Linked DNA regions of Homo sapiens. The protein of the gene in region 2 purifies or fractionates together with the protein of the main gene of each other region. This does not show direct contact. Each region holds a gene or a part of one and is shown on either strand. Other genes may lie near its edges.

Region 1 (3,653 bases), on a different chromosome or scaffold from region 2:
ACGAAGCAGCCCCCACGGGCGAACCCCACCCAGACGCTGCCTCGGCCTCCCCGGCTTACACCAGTAGCAGCCCTCGGTGGGGGCGCAGGCCAGGCACAGTGCACACGGCCCGAACACACGGTGCTCAGAGGCATCTGCGGTATGAAGAGTCGGTCCAAAGCCCTGGGCTCCAGCTGCCACTGAGGGGAGCATCCAAGCTCTGGAGACAGCAGGGGTCTGGGGAAGGCAGCGGAAGCGGCAGCCCATCCACCCCTGACCTGCACAGCTCACCACAGACCCCCCAGCCACAACCGCAACCAAGCCAGGCCGATGGCAGGTATCCTGGGGAAACCCCCGACACTGACGCCTTCAGTCACACCCGGGCCCTGAAGGGCTCCGGTCCCCACAGCTCACGCCCTCAGTCCCCACAGCTCACTGAGCACCTCGGGGAGACCAAGCTCCCTCCACGATTCCTCGGGCTCCACCCGTGGTAGGGGGTGAAAAGCTCACCCCACGCACTGCACGTCAAGCTCAGCAGGAGACGGGGCAGGCAGAAGTGGATGGAACGAGTTTTACGGGACACAGCCCTGGAATGGGAGCCAGGGGTGCCGCCCAGGCCCTGCTGCACCCCAGGGGACCCTAAGATACCCCTTCCACCCTCCAGACCTCAGGCCGACTGAACCCGGAGGCTCCCCGGCCACCAACCCCACACCCAAAGCAGCTGGGATTCCAGCCAGTAAAATGTGCCAGGAGAAGAGGTGTGTTAAGAGTTTCTAAAACTCTAGAGAGAAAACGCCAGCTGACCGCAGGTGCCCAGCTCCCACCTGACCAGGCAGGGGCTCAGGAGAATGTAGGCTTATTCCCTGGCCCAGCAGAAGAGGGGGAGTTCAGGGGTCCCTCTGTTCGTGTCATTTGTCACCAAGTCCCATCTGTGGTTCAGTGCTGCACAAGGCCCTAAACCAGGGGTGTCCAATGTTTTGGCTTCCCAGGGCCACATTGGAAGAAGAAGAATTGTCTTGAGCCACACATAAAATACGCTAACACTATGATAGCTGATGAACTAAAAAAAACAAAAAAGGAAAAAAGAAAGAGAGAGAGAAAGAAAGAGAGAGAGAGGAAGGAAGGAAGGTAGGTAGGTCTGTGTGTAAATCTCATAATGTTTTCAGAAAGTTTACAGATTTGGCTTTTTTTTTGAGACAGAGTCTTGCTCTGTTACCCAGGCTGGAGTGCAGTGGCATGATCTCAGCTCACTGCAACCTCCGCCTCCCAGGTTCAAGCGATTCTCTCCTGCCTCAGCCTCCCGAGTAGCTGAGATTACAGGTGCCCGCCACCACGCCTGGCTAATGTTTGTATTTTTAGTAGAGATGGGGTTTCACCATGTTGGCCAGGCTGGTCTCAAACTCCTGACCTCAGGTGATCTGCCCATCTCAGCCTCCCAAAGTGCTAAGATTACAGGCATGAGCCACTGCACCCAACCAAGTTTACGGATTTGTGTTAGGCCACATTCAAAGCTGTCCTGGGCCACACGCAGCCTGTGGGCCACAGGTTGGACAAATGTGCCCTAAACCATTAATGCATGCGCCTTTAACCAAGGCGAAGATCCCGTCACCATGGAAAACACAGACCCTACTCCGAGTCTCACGTGTCTTGCTGGGATATGGCTACCTTCAGCTCCTAATAGGTCTGGGGAGAGTATAACTGGTGTAAGTACAAGCAGACTTAGGAAAAACGGTCCTCGCTGCCCCCGACTGAACAGCAAGGGTGAGATGGAACTTCTGCTGCATCAAATGAAAGGCCTCGAGGTTTGTTTCATGTAAAAGCTCAATTTCACTACAACCAAGGACAGTGAGAGAGATTCAGGAAACAGCACTTCTCCAGACATCACAGTCCCAAAACACAACTCATGAGATGTCCAAGAGTCACAGAGCTGGGCAGAACCTCAAGCCATAAACTCCTACTGCACCAGAAGCCTCAACCTTCTCTCCCTCTTCAAGGTGGAAATGCGGCATCCAGGGCTGAATCAGAAAAAACCTTGGAAATCACCTCATGAGTGATGCTCATCCTGAGCTCTGCAGAGCCCCAGGGCACTCTGGGCACCCCGCCAACAGCCACCTGCTGAAGAGGGAGTGGAATGTGGGAAGGTTCTGGGTCCCTGTGACAAGAATGGCTTTTATGCTTTGCACACTGAGCTTGGGGGAAAGGGTCAGCAGATTACAGAAACAGCTCCTTTGGCTGGGCACAGAGGCTCGTGCCTGTAATCCCAGCACTTTGGGAGGCCGAGGCTGGCGGATCACTTGAGGTCAGGAGTTTGAGACCAGCCCGGCCAACACGGTGAAACCCCATCTCTACTAAAAATACAAAAATTAGCCGGGTGTGGTGGTGCACACCTGTAATCCCAGCTACTGGGGAGGCTGAGGCAGGAGAATCGCTTGAACCCGGGAGGCAGAGGTTGCAGTGAGCCGAGATCACACCACTGCCCTCCAGCCTGGGCGACAGAGCGAGACTCCGTCTCAAAAACAAACAAAAAAAAGAAATAGCTGTTTTAATAATCTAGTCCAACCCCCTTGTATTTAATTGATGGGGAAACTGAGGCCTGGAGACCAGAATAGCTTGATCATGGTCACAGCACAGACACACAATGCATAGGGCAGGGCCCTGAGGTCCTCTGTCTCTATCCTGAAAAGCCCCCAGCCCCACGTTCTCGGTCCCCTCCACCTGGGGGGAGTGGGCACACAGACCTGGAGACAGAAGAGACTCAGCCCCAATCTACAGAAACCAACAGTGCCCTCCCTCCGTTTCTAAAGGGAACACAGAAGCACGGGGGCGGAAGAGGAAGAAAACCCAAGACTTTCCACACCAGCAAAGACATCGAATTTCCTCTTCAGCACGAAAAACGTCACGGGCACCTGAGCGCCCCGTTTCCAGCTTAAAAAGCCCCGACTCCACAGCAGGTGGGTTCACCATTCACCAAGCCACTCAGGAGCTCCGGGGCTCAGGGGAAGCACAGCCCTCACGGGCACACTCTGATCACTCTCTTCAAACTAATATGAGTAGCCTGGAGGCCACTTTCCCAAGAAATAGGAACTAGGCAGCAAGCTCCCACATTCACAACTATGTCCACTTTTTTTTGTTTTTGAGACAGGGTCTCGCTCTGTCGCCCAGGCTGGTGTGCAGTGGCACCATCATGGCTCACTGAAGCCTCTACCTCTTGGGTTCAGGTGATCCTCCCACCTCAGCCTCGTGAGTAGCTGGGACTACAGACACGCACCACCACCCCTGGCTAATTTTTTTTTATTTTTGATAGAGATGAGATCTTGCTCTGTTGCCCAGGGTGGTCCTGAACTCCTGGGCTCAAGCAGTCCTCCTGCCTCAGCCTCCCAAAGCGCTGGGATGATAGGTGTGAGCCGCTGTGCCCAGCCATGTAACACTTTTTCTTAACATAAAAGCACCCAGATGAGCTTTCCAGTGTGATAGTAAACACCGTATCTTCAAACTGATCCCAAATGACTCCAAGATCTTGGCGAATTTCTGAAATCAGCTTCTGCCCATGCAGCAGGAGCACTGCCTGAGGTTGTGTGTGGAGCGGGAGGTGGGAGCCGCTCAGGTGCTGGGGCTTTATTATTCTGATGAGTTAAGTCTCCAGTGCCAAATCCTAGTGGACTCAGACAGCAAAG
Region 2 (3,653 bases):
TATGTGGTCAAAGGCTAGAGGAGAGAGAACACTGATCTCCAGAGTTCAAAATAAAATCTAAACGCCCACATAGACGCTGCTGTCCTACTGTAAAACTACAGTACTTTCATCCTCGCATAAAGACTTCCAAGATTGTACCCATGCAGTAATTCATGGAGACATCACAGATGTTCTCCTGAAGCATATCAACGCAATCTGCTCTTTGTTGAAAACTGACCGAAAACTTGCTTTCTTTGGCATCATACCCTACACCGCTATCCCTAATCAGTTTCCCTCCTGTTACAGGCAGTAGTTAGAGAACAGGTTTCGGTGAGGTACAGATCCTAAGAGCGCAGGCCCTGGGCTCACAAGAACCCTGGGTCCCAGGCCCCAGCTTGTTATCTTCCAACACTGTCCTGATTTCCATCACTCTCCAGGGTAAACTGAGGGAATAAAACCTGTTGACTTAGTTGGTTGTGAGGAGTTCAATAAATGTTTCCTGTGTTATTGATCAGGAACCAGAATCTGTGTGTGTGTGTGTGTGTGTGTGTGTGTGTGTGTGTGTATTTACCTTCATTTTTCTCTTTGTAAATCTCTTCGCAGTAACAGTAAGGATTCGTGTTGGAATTAAGTCTGTAAGATCTTTCTTGAGATACTTTTTTTGTTCTAATAATATATATATTTTTTAATTTGCCATCGTGTTCAATGTTAATTTCAGTTTGAGGGGAATTCCTGACAGGATTGCAGAACCTCAAACTTCCCAAGTCATTGGGTTAATGTTTTGGGGAGCTGCTTGAAGGAATAGAGAGATGAGTCGATTATAGTAGCAGGAATGACGTGACAATTGCCATATTAATAGCTCAGCTTTTTCCAATTCCCTTACACATTCTGTGACTCATTTTCTGTAGCTTGGATGATTTCTCTATCTAAAACTTTGTGGTCTGAGATCAGCAGTGGATGGTGAGACCCCACAGATAAGCTCTCTTGTAGGGGGTATATGTAGCCTGAAAACTAAGGCCAGTCCTGTGAAACTGTTGATATTTGACCCTTTTGACCAAATTTTCATTTGGTTTACCCTTACACTTGCGACATAGGTCAGGGCTTCAGTAAGAGTCACGAGCAGCAAAAACAGCCTGGAACTGATAGGCATCGTTGCCTTTTGATACTGATCATTCTTCAGAAAAGAGATAAAGAGTTAGTATTTACTAAACACATACTCTGCATGTGCCAGGCACAGTGTTGAGGGGCTCTGTTATCATCCACATTTCATAGATGAGGAAATGGAAACTCAGAGAAATGAATTTGCAGCCCAGGTCGCAGAGCCTGAAAACCAGATGGGGAAATTTGCACCTCAACAAAGTGTATTCTCACACTCACTGTAGTTTTTGAAACAATTTCCTTTTCTGGGTTAAAGACTTATTTTTGTGCAGTGCAGTTATAACATCACTGTGATGCAACAGCCTGAAAATTAAAACCCTTTGTGAGAGGCCTTTCGGACGTTGAGCAATGTGCCTGACTCACCAGCTGAGTGGATTTTTCTAGTTGACCTTGCCTTGGTCATTAGAGTCAATTTCGAGATGTAAATGCGATTGCAGCATGGAATGGAAAAGGTGCAGTCATATTGCCTGGGCTTTATTTTTACCCAGGTTAAACTCATATACTTCATGATTTCCATTGTAATCCAGATGCCATTGATGCTGTTAAAGTTGTTTATTTTTAATTTGTATTGAGGAATGAGAGCACACTTGGGATTCAATTCAAAATATAACAGAAACAATGTAATTGAAATTGCCTTTAATATTCATTTCTTGTTTTTGTAAGGTATGCCTGTATTTCACGGGGTTTAATACATTGTTTGATATCCTGTTATTTTTCTAAATTATATTTGAGTTGATTTCTATCCAGGTTGGACTTGTATGAGAATGTTGAAAGACGTTGACCTTTGATCACAGACATTACAATATGAATTTTTCAGTTTCAAAATGAATTTTTATTACTACTACCCCAGTTATCTTTCACATTTCTTTGTAAGTAACTTTACTGTAGTTAAAAAAAAAAAAAACACCCAAAACTGTTTCTCATATGGCTTTAATAATAGAGCATAAACTTGTTTTTATGATAAGAAAGTTTACTAGAGATTTGCTAGATGCCATTTGTTATTAATCTGTGCTTTGAGGACTCAGTTTCATAGGACTCAGAATGATGTTTATAAGCCTTTTAGTTATCAGAACATGATGTCTTTTATTAATTAGCTTTTTAGGGGTCTTAAACTGTAATTAACTGGCCTTCAAATAAACACTACAAATAAGCATTTGAAAATCCACTCTATTCATAAGGTAGAAAATGACATTTATAATCATCCACTGACTGGAAAAGTGGAAAAAGAAATTAAAAAGCCAAGTGAAGCAAGTTGGGATGATTCTACATTATCATTAGAAACTTTCAAGAATTTTCTCAGCCTGACTGTCCCCTTAGCCCACCATTTTTGCCATCATTACACCATGTTGCATGTATTACTTATTCATTGGGGAATTTTCTACAACTGGGTTACTTTGTGATTGTTGGTGTCCTTTTAAGATTTCAGATTAGTTGCTACACTGATCAGTTATCTTTTCAGAAGTTTCAAGATATTAATAGTCCCCACATTTAAGTTTCTATAGATTTTTAAAAAATTATTACTGTTCTGTTTTTCCCCCATGTTACTACCCATCTTTAGTGAGAGCTGTTCTTATTTCTCAAGCTGTGCAGTTAATTGGTCGTGCTAGCGTGTATGTGCTTACTCTGTGCAGGCTTCAGAATAATTTAATTGTGTATTAAGTTTCAAACACTGACGACCTCTTAAAGAAGAATGTTAAGTTATACTATTTCATATTTCAATTACTTAAATTACATCAGTGATGTAATAAAATGCAATGTTGTCATCGTATTTATTAAATTTAAATTTAATTTTCAGCTAGTCCTTTGTCGAACTTGAAATATTTTCATTTATCATAAACTGGATCAGGCTTTGACACATTTATTTACAGAGGCACCCAAATAGAAAAAGTAGGTCAATTTGTTGCTATGATAGAATAGATTCTGGCAGTGTGCGAGAGTGTGTGTGTATGTGTGTGTGTGCGTCTTGCCTGTCTTGATCAAGTGCACATTTCTCTCTAACTTTGGGGTAAGCTGCTTCTTGGGGACAGAATGGCCCTTAGAGAGGTTTAACATAGTTTTCTCAGCTTAAAAATCCTTCTCTTTTTCAACGGGATTAGAAAATTCTCTTGCAACTTCGGTGTTTTCTGACTGAGTTTTTTCACTCCCCATTTCCTCTGGGTTGTACATGTATAGTGAATTCTTTTCTTATTTCATCTCTGCTTTTAAATACTAGATTGTTTTCTCATCCATGAAAAGAAGTAAAGCATTTCATTGACGCAGATACTGTGAATTTTACCCACAGGAAGAAAATGTAGGGTTAACATATTGCTAGTATTCATACTTTAAAAGTATAAAGAGATGTGAATTGATTAATTGATTTGATTTTTTCATGAAAATGACATTTATCTAAAAAATAAGCATCTGCTGTCTTACTGGAGAGGTGGCTTACAGTTTAACATAACTTAGGTTTACCTTGAAGACATTTTTTTTTCCTTTACTGTTATCTGTATTATATAACAGGGAGAAAACAATACATT

The links.
Region 1: the proteins of NFIL3 (region 2) and SNX8 purify together in Homo sapiens (affinity purification with mass spectrometry; one large-scale study listed by BioGRID and IntAct). This does not show direct contact.

What each region holds. Positions count from the first base shown.
Region 1 is NC_000007.14:2,258,942-2,262,594, forward strand, and holds part of SNX8 (sorting nexin-8), read right to left. Parts: intron 1-3,653. UniProt on the Homo sapiens protein: May be involved in several stages of intracellular trafficking. May play a role in intracellular protein transport from early endosomes to the trans-Golgi network.
Region 2 is NC_000009.12:91,417,244-91,420,896, reverse strand, and holds part of NFIL3 (nuclear factor interleukin-3-regulated protein), read left to right. Parts: intron 1-1,541; exon of another isoform or gene 1,542-3,653.